Homo sapiens: one gene and its partner. The protein of the gene in region 1 interacts with the protein of each later gene in a pairwise test. Each region holds a gene or a part of one and is shown on either strand. Other genes may lie near its edges.

What was found. Proteins that work in one complex are often made in the same cells at the same time.
Region 2: the proteins of FAM25G (region 1) and ZFAND3 interact in a two-hybrid assay, tested with the Homo sapiens proteins (one large-scale study listed by BioGRID).

What each region holds. Positions count from the first base shown.
Region 1 is NC_000010.11:47,488,901-47,492,989, forward strand, and holds the start of FAM25G (protein FAM25G), read right to left. Parts: upstream 2,801-4,089; 5' UTR 2,775-2,800; coding exon 2,702-2,774; intron 749-2,701; coding exon 686-748; intron 1-685.
Region 2 is NC_000006.12:38,151,727-38,155,124, forward strand, and holds the end of ZFAND3 (AN1-type zinc finger protein 3), read left to right. Parts: intron 1-508; coding exon 509-663; 3' UTR 664-2,898; downstream 2,899-3,398.

The DNA.
Region 1 (4,089 bases):
GTATTTTTAGTAGAGATGCGGTTTCACCGTGGTCTGGATCTCCTGACCTCATGATCCGCCCACCTCAGCCTCCCAAAGTGCTGGGATTACAGGCGTGAGCCACCGCCCCCAGCAATTATTTTTTTCTTTTTTTTTGAGACCGAGTCTTGCTCTGTAGCCCAGGCTGGAGTGCAGTGGCATGATCTAGGCTCACTGCAAGCTCTGCCTCCCAGGTACACACCATTCTCCTGCCTCAGCCTCCCAAGTAGCTGGGACTATAGGCACCCACCACCATGCCCGGCTAATTTTTATGTATTTTTAGTAGAGACGGGGTTTCACCGTGTTAGCCAGGATGGTCTCGATCTCCTGACCTCATGATCCGCCCTCCTCAGCCTCCCAAAGTGCTGGGATTACAGGCATGAGCCACCGCACCCTGCCATGTTAAATGTTTTGTCCCAGTGTGCTGTCACATAGTCTTGTGTGACTTTGTCTTCTTATTCCACAGAGAGAACCATCTAGACAGTGTCCTAACGCAGTACAGTCTGTGGCCTCTGATGAGCATAGATAACTGCCCCAGCCAAGAGGCTCTGAAAGGCTGCAACATTAGGGGCAGAGTTTGACCTGGTTAGTCAAAGAACAGGTTGGCCCAGCACCTAGCTTCCCTTCCTCCCTCCCTCCTTCCCTGCCCGACCTCAGCCGGCTGTACCTTTCTCTCCAGTCTCCTTGGCATGTCCCACCACCTCCTTCACCACTTCCTCCACGGCATGAACTGAACAGAGGAGACAAGTCCAGGGTGAGGGCTCAGAGCAGGCCGGCTGCCCCCGAGTCCAGGGTGAGGGTTCAGAGCAGAGCCGCTGCCCTCCCAGTCCAGGGTGAGGGCTCAGAGCAGGCCCACTGCCCTCCCAGTCCAGGGTGAGGGCTCAGGGCTGGCTTATCCTCACAACAGACCTATACATCCCTGGGCATCCTAGATGGGGCTCTGGGGTGCCACCCCCAGCCAGGACAGACTGACTCATGAGAAGGACCTTCCCCCACAGCTGGCTTCATTTGGAGACGCCAGGGCCTTGGCTGCTGGGAGACGAGCTCAATGAGCCCCATGAGGGCATGGGTCCCTGAAGCCCCTTGGCCCTGCCCGGCCTGGAATGGCAATGAGCAGGCAGTCTTGCCAGCTGAGACATGAAGCCCAGGCTGGGCCTGTGTGCCAGGTCACACCCCTCTCAGGATGTGCTAGCGCCTGCCTCAGGTTGGTTTCCAAAGCCTCATCCACTAAGACCAGGTCTCTCAAAGCAATTCCTCCAACAAAACGGAATTCTCTGCCTACTTCAGAGTTTTTTAAAGTGTGGGTGGTAGCGTGCTAGAACTGAAGGATTTCAGAGTCAGAAGAAATGGTTCTTATTCTAACTCTACCTTCCACCTCTTGGTTCCCTCATCTTTAGAATGGGAATCTGTTGGGATGATGAGACCCAACACCAGGTCACGGGGGCGGCAAGTCCAGCGGAGTCAAAGGAATGACAAAGAGACAGTTCGAGAGAGAAAATGGGAGCAGGGCGCTATCGCGAGTGTGGAGGCTGCGAAGGCCCCGAGTTCTGGGAGCCCACGCTATTTATTGGTGATCTAACAAAGAAACAGGTGGTGAGGATGTGGAGGTTGAAAGGAAACAGTGTATCAAGTGAATGAGAAACATATGGCTACTTGAGAGAATGGCAGTGCTAGAAGCAAGGAGCCAGCAAGTCTAGCAAGCCCTGCCTCAGCTTTTCTCCCAACGCTGAGCTTTTCTCCCAACAGGAATCATAAAAAACTCAGAGGCTAGTGAAAGGTTAAAGCAGGTGGTCCACACCAGCTGCAGAGTCAAAAACAAAATACGCATCTGCTGCCATTTAGAAAGAGGACACAAACTCAGGCAAGACTTTTTCACACGATGACCCATGAGTGGGGCCTGGCTGGGCCTCCCCACACATACCTGCTGACCTCTGAATACAACATACACTTCGGGACCAGGTGCAGTGGTTCACGCCTGTAATCCCAGCACTTTGGGAGGCCAAGAGGAATGGATCACTTGAGGTCAGGAGTTTGAGACCAGCCTGGCCAAAATGGCGAAACCCCGTCTCTGCTAAAAATACAAAAATTAGTCGGGCGTGGTGGTGGGTGCCTGTAATCCCAGCTACTCAGGAGGCTGAGGCATGAGAATCACTTTGAACCCAGGAGGCAAAGGTTACAGTGAGCCGAGATCGCACCACTACACTCCAGCCTGGGTGCCAGAGCAAGACTCCATTTCAAATACAAATACAAATAAAAATAAACATGCTTTAGGGGACTTGGATGAAATTGAAAATGCCCTTTTTGACTTTGAACAGACTTGGTGACTTGTTAAGAAATCTTTGAAGCTTTAAAGTTATGGTAAAAATAAAAATCCATCTTCCTTTTCCTGCATAGGTTATTCAGAATAGGCTGTTTTGACAAGAAAGGCTCCCCAGATTTCCAGAGGGAAGGGTCCAAGCTGCCAGTGTTCACCCAGCACCAGGACTCATGCCCTGCCCCCAGGAGACCTCCCCAGGTCTGCACCCCTCAACTCCGTGCTGACTTGGTAGAGCAGGAGACCAGGGTTCCTGAGGGGCCAAGGCCTCCCCGCAGGTCCTCGCCTGCCTACGTAGATCCGCCTCCCACAGACCCAGTCTGCCCCAGATCCCCCCAGCCCAGGTAGAAAGGAGCCCTGGGTCCTCACTGGCTCCCTCGGTGGCCTTCTCGGTGCGGTGGGCCAGGCCCTCGGCAGCCAGCTTCCCCAGGCCTCCCAGCATCGTGTGGCAGCAGACAGTGGCGAACTAGGATGCTGAGGACTGGCCCAACATGCTTTTATAGCTGCCTCTGGTGCCTATCTAGGCTCTGGGGCAATAAGCCCTCACCCCAGCCCAGTAGGAGGCTGGACAGGTGAGTCAGTGAGGGCGGCAGCAGGAAGGGGCTGGGCGGAGCCACCCTGGAACTAGGGTGGCAGCATCCCCTGACAGCATGAGGCTTCTGTAACCCTGTCCTAGGGACCCCGTGAAGGATAGGGGCAGGGAGCAGGGCTGGACAGTAGAGATCTGGACATGCTTCTTCCTTGAGGCAGAGGGCCTGAGTGCCAGCCCCCCTGAGACCAAAGCTTCCCAAGCCTGGGTACTGATATGTACCTGGAGACAAGGCCTAGGATTCCAAGCCTGCTGCTCAAGGTCCCCAGTGTGGCCTAGTAAGAGGTTTGGGGGTTCTATGGGCCTGGAGACCTGGGCAGTCCTTTGAGTCATGAACACAAGTGGAATGAGGGTGACTGCCCTCCCCATTCCTGGAGACCCTGGCTCTGCAGAGCAGTTTGCGGCCTCCATGGGACAGGGTGGGGCGTTCAGGGTGGTGCCTTGCCCGAGTCAGAGGGGGGCACAGCACTGGGCAGAAGCGTAGTCACCTGGTGTCGCTCAGCTGATGCTCACTCACCCAAGAGGCTCTGTGAGGTCAGCAGTGCCCTCCTATCCCCTGGCAGTCCTGGAGGAGTAGACAGAGGCCTCCACCACCACTCAGGGAGATGCTTCTGGCCTTAGCTAGAATCCCCTAGGAAGCAGCTTCCCTGGCTCCTGGTGCATCGCATGAGGAGTGGCAGGGCTGCTCCCTAGTTACTCATGATGGACAGACATGCCTCAAGCCACCTGCCACATGCTGCTTCCCTTAGTCACCAGCCCAACCTGAGCCTCCGTTTCCTCATCTGTAAAATGGGCATAGCGTGCCTTCTTGGCTGTGTCCCTAATCATCCCTGAGGCAAAGCATGCAAGCTCCTGGTAAACACCTGTTCCCTCCACTCATCATTGAGGTGCCCTTTGGCAGTGAGCTCTGACCAACTGGTAGGGTGTGCCAAGGAGTGACTGGGACGTGAGGCTGCCTTGGAGCCAGAGGGCTGGGGAATGTGACTTCTGCTGGCCAGGAGCCAAGGAGAGGTCTTCCCATGCTCCTACTTCTGGGGTGCAGGCCTGTGGCAGGGGTCTGAGGCTCTCTCCCCAATGCAGGCTCCTGGAGCTGCTCTCCTGGATGTGTCGGGGCCTGATTAGTTTACTGGACTGTGGGCCCTCCCAGCCTGGGACTCGGGAGCTGAGA
Region 2 (3,398 bases), on another chromosome or scaffold:
ACTCATTTTTGGGTTGTGGTTTGATCACTCCCACCATCCTCTCAAGCCCCGGCTGTACAGGAGGTGGAATGTCATTTAAGACATAATCATTTCTCCTGCCTCCTAGAAATGGTGGGCATCCTGTGGTGGAAATCACAGTTTGCCCGAGCCAAGCAGAGAGCTGAGCTGACAGCCTGTGCTCTTCCGCCTGCATGGTGCTGGAGAGGAGCGCAGAGCCCACTCATTTGCAAGGACAGGGCTGTGTCTCGCAGCCATCAACTTAGGGTTCTACCCTTCAAGGGTCCAGGCAGGGACAGGCTTGAGCAGCTGTGGAATGCAAAGTGCTGACCCTCTTGCTCCAGGGTGCAGGTGTTGGAGTGAGCTCTCTGCTGCATCAGGAACCCCTGCAGTGAGTGTTGTCCACTCACTGGGATGCCCCTCCATCCTCTGGACAAAGGCAATTGTGAGGCTCTGCGCACTTGGAGGCCACCCTAACACACTCTTTCCTCTGCTTCTCCCGCTGCTGCAGGTTATGTGTTCTGTATGTTACATCGCCTCCCCGAGCAGCACGACTGCACATTCGACCACATGGGCCGTGGCCGGGAGGAAGCCATCATGAAAATGGTGAAGCTGGACCGGAAAGTGGGGCGCTCCTGCCAGCGCATCGGGGAGGGGTGCTCCTGAAGGCCAGGCATGGCCACCACGTGACGCTGTTCTTAGTTCACTAATGTTAGCCTTATTTAGGACAAAGTCAGCCAGACACCTTGTACTGGGCACGCGTCAGACTGCAGCCAGTCCGTTTCCTTTCTTTAGCCAGCCATCCTGGTACTGTAGTTTAGGGGTTGATGGTGGTTGAAATTGATTTCTGGCTGGTTACTAAGGTGCCTGCTAGCCATTGTATAAAATTAAAACATGAAGAATATTTTTTTTTTGAGCATGGCTAGTGGATTTAAAACAACACATACCTGTCACTGCTGGAGTCAAACTTATAAAAAGCCTTAAGTGGAAAGTGTTCCAGACGGAGACTCTGAGTTAATAGAGGAGTAGAAGCTGGTGTTAAAGTTCCCACGACGCACATGGCTTTGCCAGAAACTCTGTTTAATGATCGGCCTTTCACCTCTTCACTTATCCTTAGTCCCAGTAGCCAGGATACCTGATGGCCACGTGTGCCTTGGCCACGGGAGGCTGCTGAGATTGGCCACGTGGCTGGGCTGGGTGGTGGCCTCACTCTCCCACAGAGCTGGAAATGGGGGGTGGGGGACAGATTCTTACGGAAATTTTTTTACCTGACTTGCTATGAAAAAACTCATCACACAAGAAGAGAAACAGTAACCTCACTTTGAAAATTAGCTCCACTCAAGACTAGTCCACGAACGAGACCCGCCTTTTCTACACAGGATCCAAGGTCACGAGAAGCAGCCAGAGTGCCCCGCCTCCGCCGGCTCTGGTCTGCCATTCGCCAGTGCAGGGATCTGGCACGGACCAGATGTGGCGAATGGCAGCACAGCGCGGTGGCTGGGTCTGCACACTGGCCTCTGCAGCCAGATTTCTATATTGGGAGTTTTTTAAAAAGACATTTCATAGCCAACAAGAATCAGTAGAAGTGCTGGGAGCAGCAGCTGGGGAAGCTGCCGCCCACGGGCTCTGCCCCTTCCAGCTGGAGCCGCCCGTGCCTCCAGGGGCCAAGAGGATGATGTCGTGGCCTCCATTCTCGTTTCTATGCAGCCCCATAGTCCAAGGACACCCAGTCCACATCTACCATATAGCAAGTTTAGTAAGGGAAGGCAGCATACGTCCCAGGGACAGTGGGTTTGGATCTGTCTAGAACAGCGGTTTGTGGCTGTGGCCCAGCTCCGAGAGTGATATTTGCTCTGGTAGGTGAGGGCCTGAGGGTACATTTCTCCACCTGTGCCCCCTCATGTTCACAGAGGATTTCAGCAGCTGCAACTGCGCACGCCAGGTGGGGAAGGGTGGGGGTGGGCCTGGTTGCCCCATGTTAGGAAATCACTACCAGTCAGGTGGGGCTGGGGCTGGGTGGACAGGATCAGGATTCCCTTGAAAGCCCAGGCAGGGTGAGCAGTCCCAGTGGTCCTAGTGCCGCATCAGATCCAGGTGGGTGAGGGCAGGAGGCCCCTGCGGAGGCAGCGTGGATCTGCCCACACATAGGCTACTGGAATAGTTTAACCCAGCAACTTTCCTTTTTATAAAACAACAAATGGTTCAACTCTGTCTGCAAATTAACAGCTGAACACCTGCAACTGCAAATGTTTTTTGATCCGACGTACTGAAATAGGAAGTCATGCTCTTCCCACCCTCCACCCACCAGAGTGGAACCCGCTGCAAAATCCCCAGCCTTAATTCTTGCTTCAGGACCCAGACCGGTGTCTTGCTCTAGGGCAACCCAGGGCAGAGGGGCCAGGTCTGCCCAGCGTTTACCACTGCTGTCAAGCCACAGCCCTTGGCCACCATACGGGCCATCCTCAGTGAGGCAGCCCCCCATAGGCTTCCGCCAAGCTCTGGTCCCGAAGAGGCTGTGCGAGCCCTTCCCGGCCCTCCCCAGGGCCCCCCGCCCCCTCCTCTGCCTGCTGCGTGGAGGCAGCCATGGGAAGGAGCCCAGGGGAGCTGGCCTGGGGGAGCGAAGCCCATGTTCGCTTCCTGACTTAGAGCTGGGGGGGGTGGGGGGTGGGGCTTGTTCCCCTGCAGTATCTGTTCTGTGAAGTTTGTTAAATGTAAGGAAAGCTTAAATTCTTGTATCTTTAAAAGAGAAAATCTTATTTAACCCTTTTGTGTTCTAGATTTACTTACACACATAGCCTAGAGCTCAGTTTTAGTTTTAACATTGTGAAAATATTAAAAGAATCTTGTAACTTTATTCTTTTTTCTCCTGCTGAAAAAAAAAATTAAACCAATCGTATGAAAGTTTGGTTTTCTTGTTTCACCCCTTCTCCTAAGTGCCCCCTGGGTTGCTGGGAAAACTGACCCATCTCCCTGGCCAGGGCTGGAAAGAGATGGGGGCCTGTGTGCAGAGACCGTCTGCAGTACTTGGAGGCACTCGTCCAGTTAGTGTCCAGGCTAAACAGCCGCTTCCTTGCTTTCTGTTGGGAGCCTCTGCCCTGGGAAGCTGCGGGACTGGCCTTGGGGTAAAGGTGGGTCTGCAGGGCCAAGCCTGTGCCAGCAGCCAGGAGGTTACACACTGGGGGGGATCAGAAAACGAGCCCCAGCCCTGAGGGCCCCAGGCGTGGGTGGGGTGGGTGCTGGGTCCTGAGGGAAGGCAGCATGCCCTAGACCCGAACCCCACCCTAGGAAGGGCCTCCAGGATGGATGACGAAGGCTCCCAAAGGCTGGCTTGGAGGAGGTGTGTGCTGTGGCACTCTTTGGTGTATAGGATGAACTTAACTACATTTTTAAATGTTCAAAAA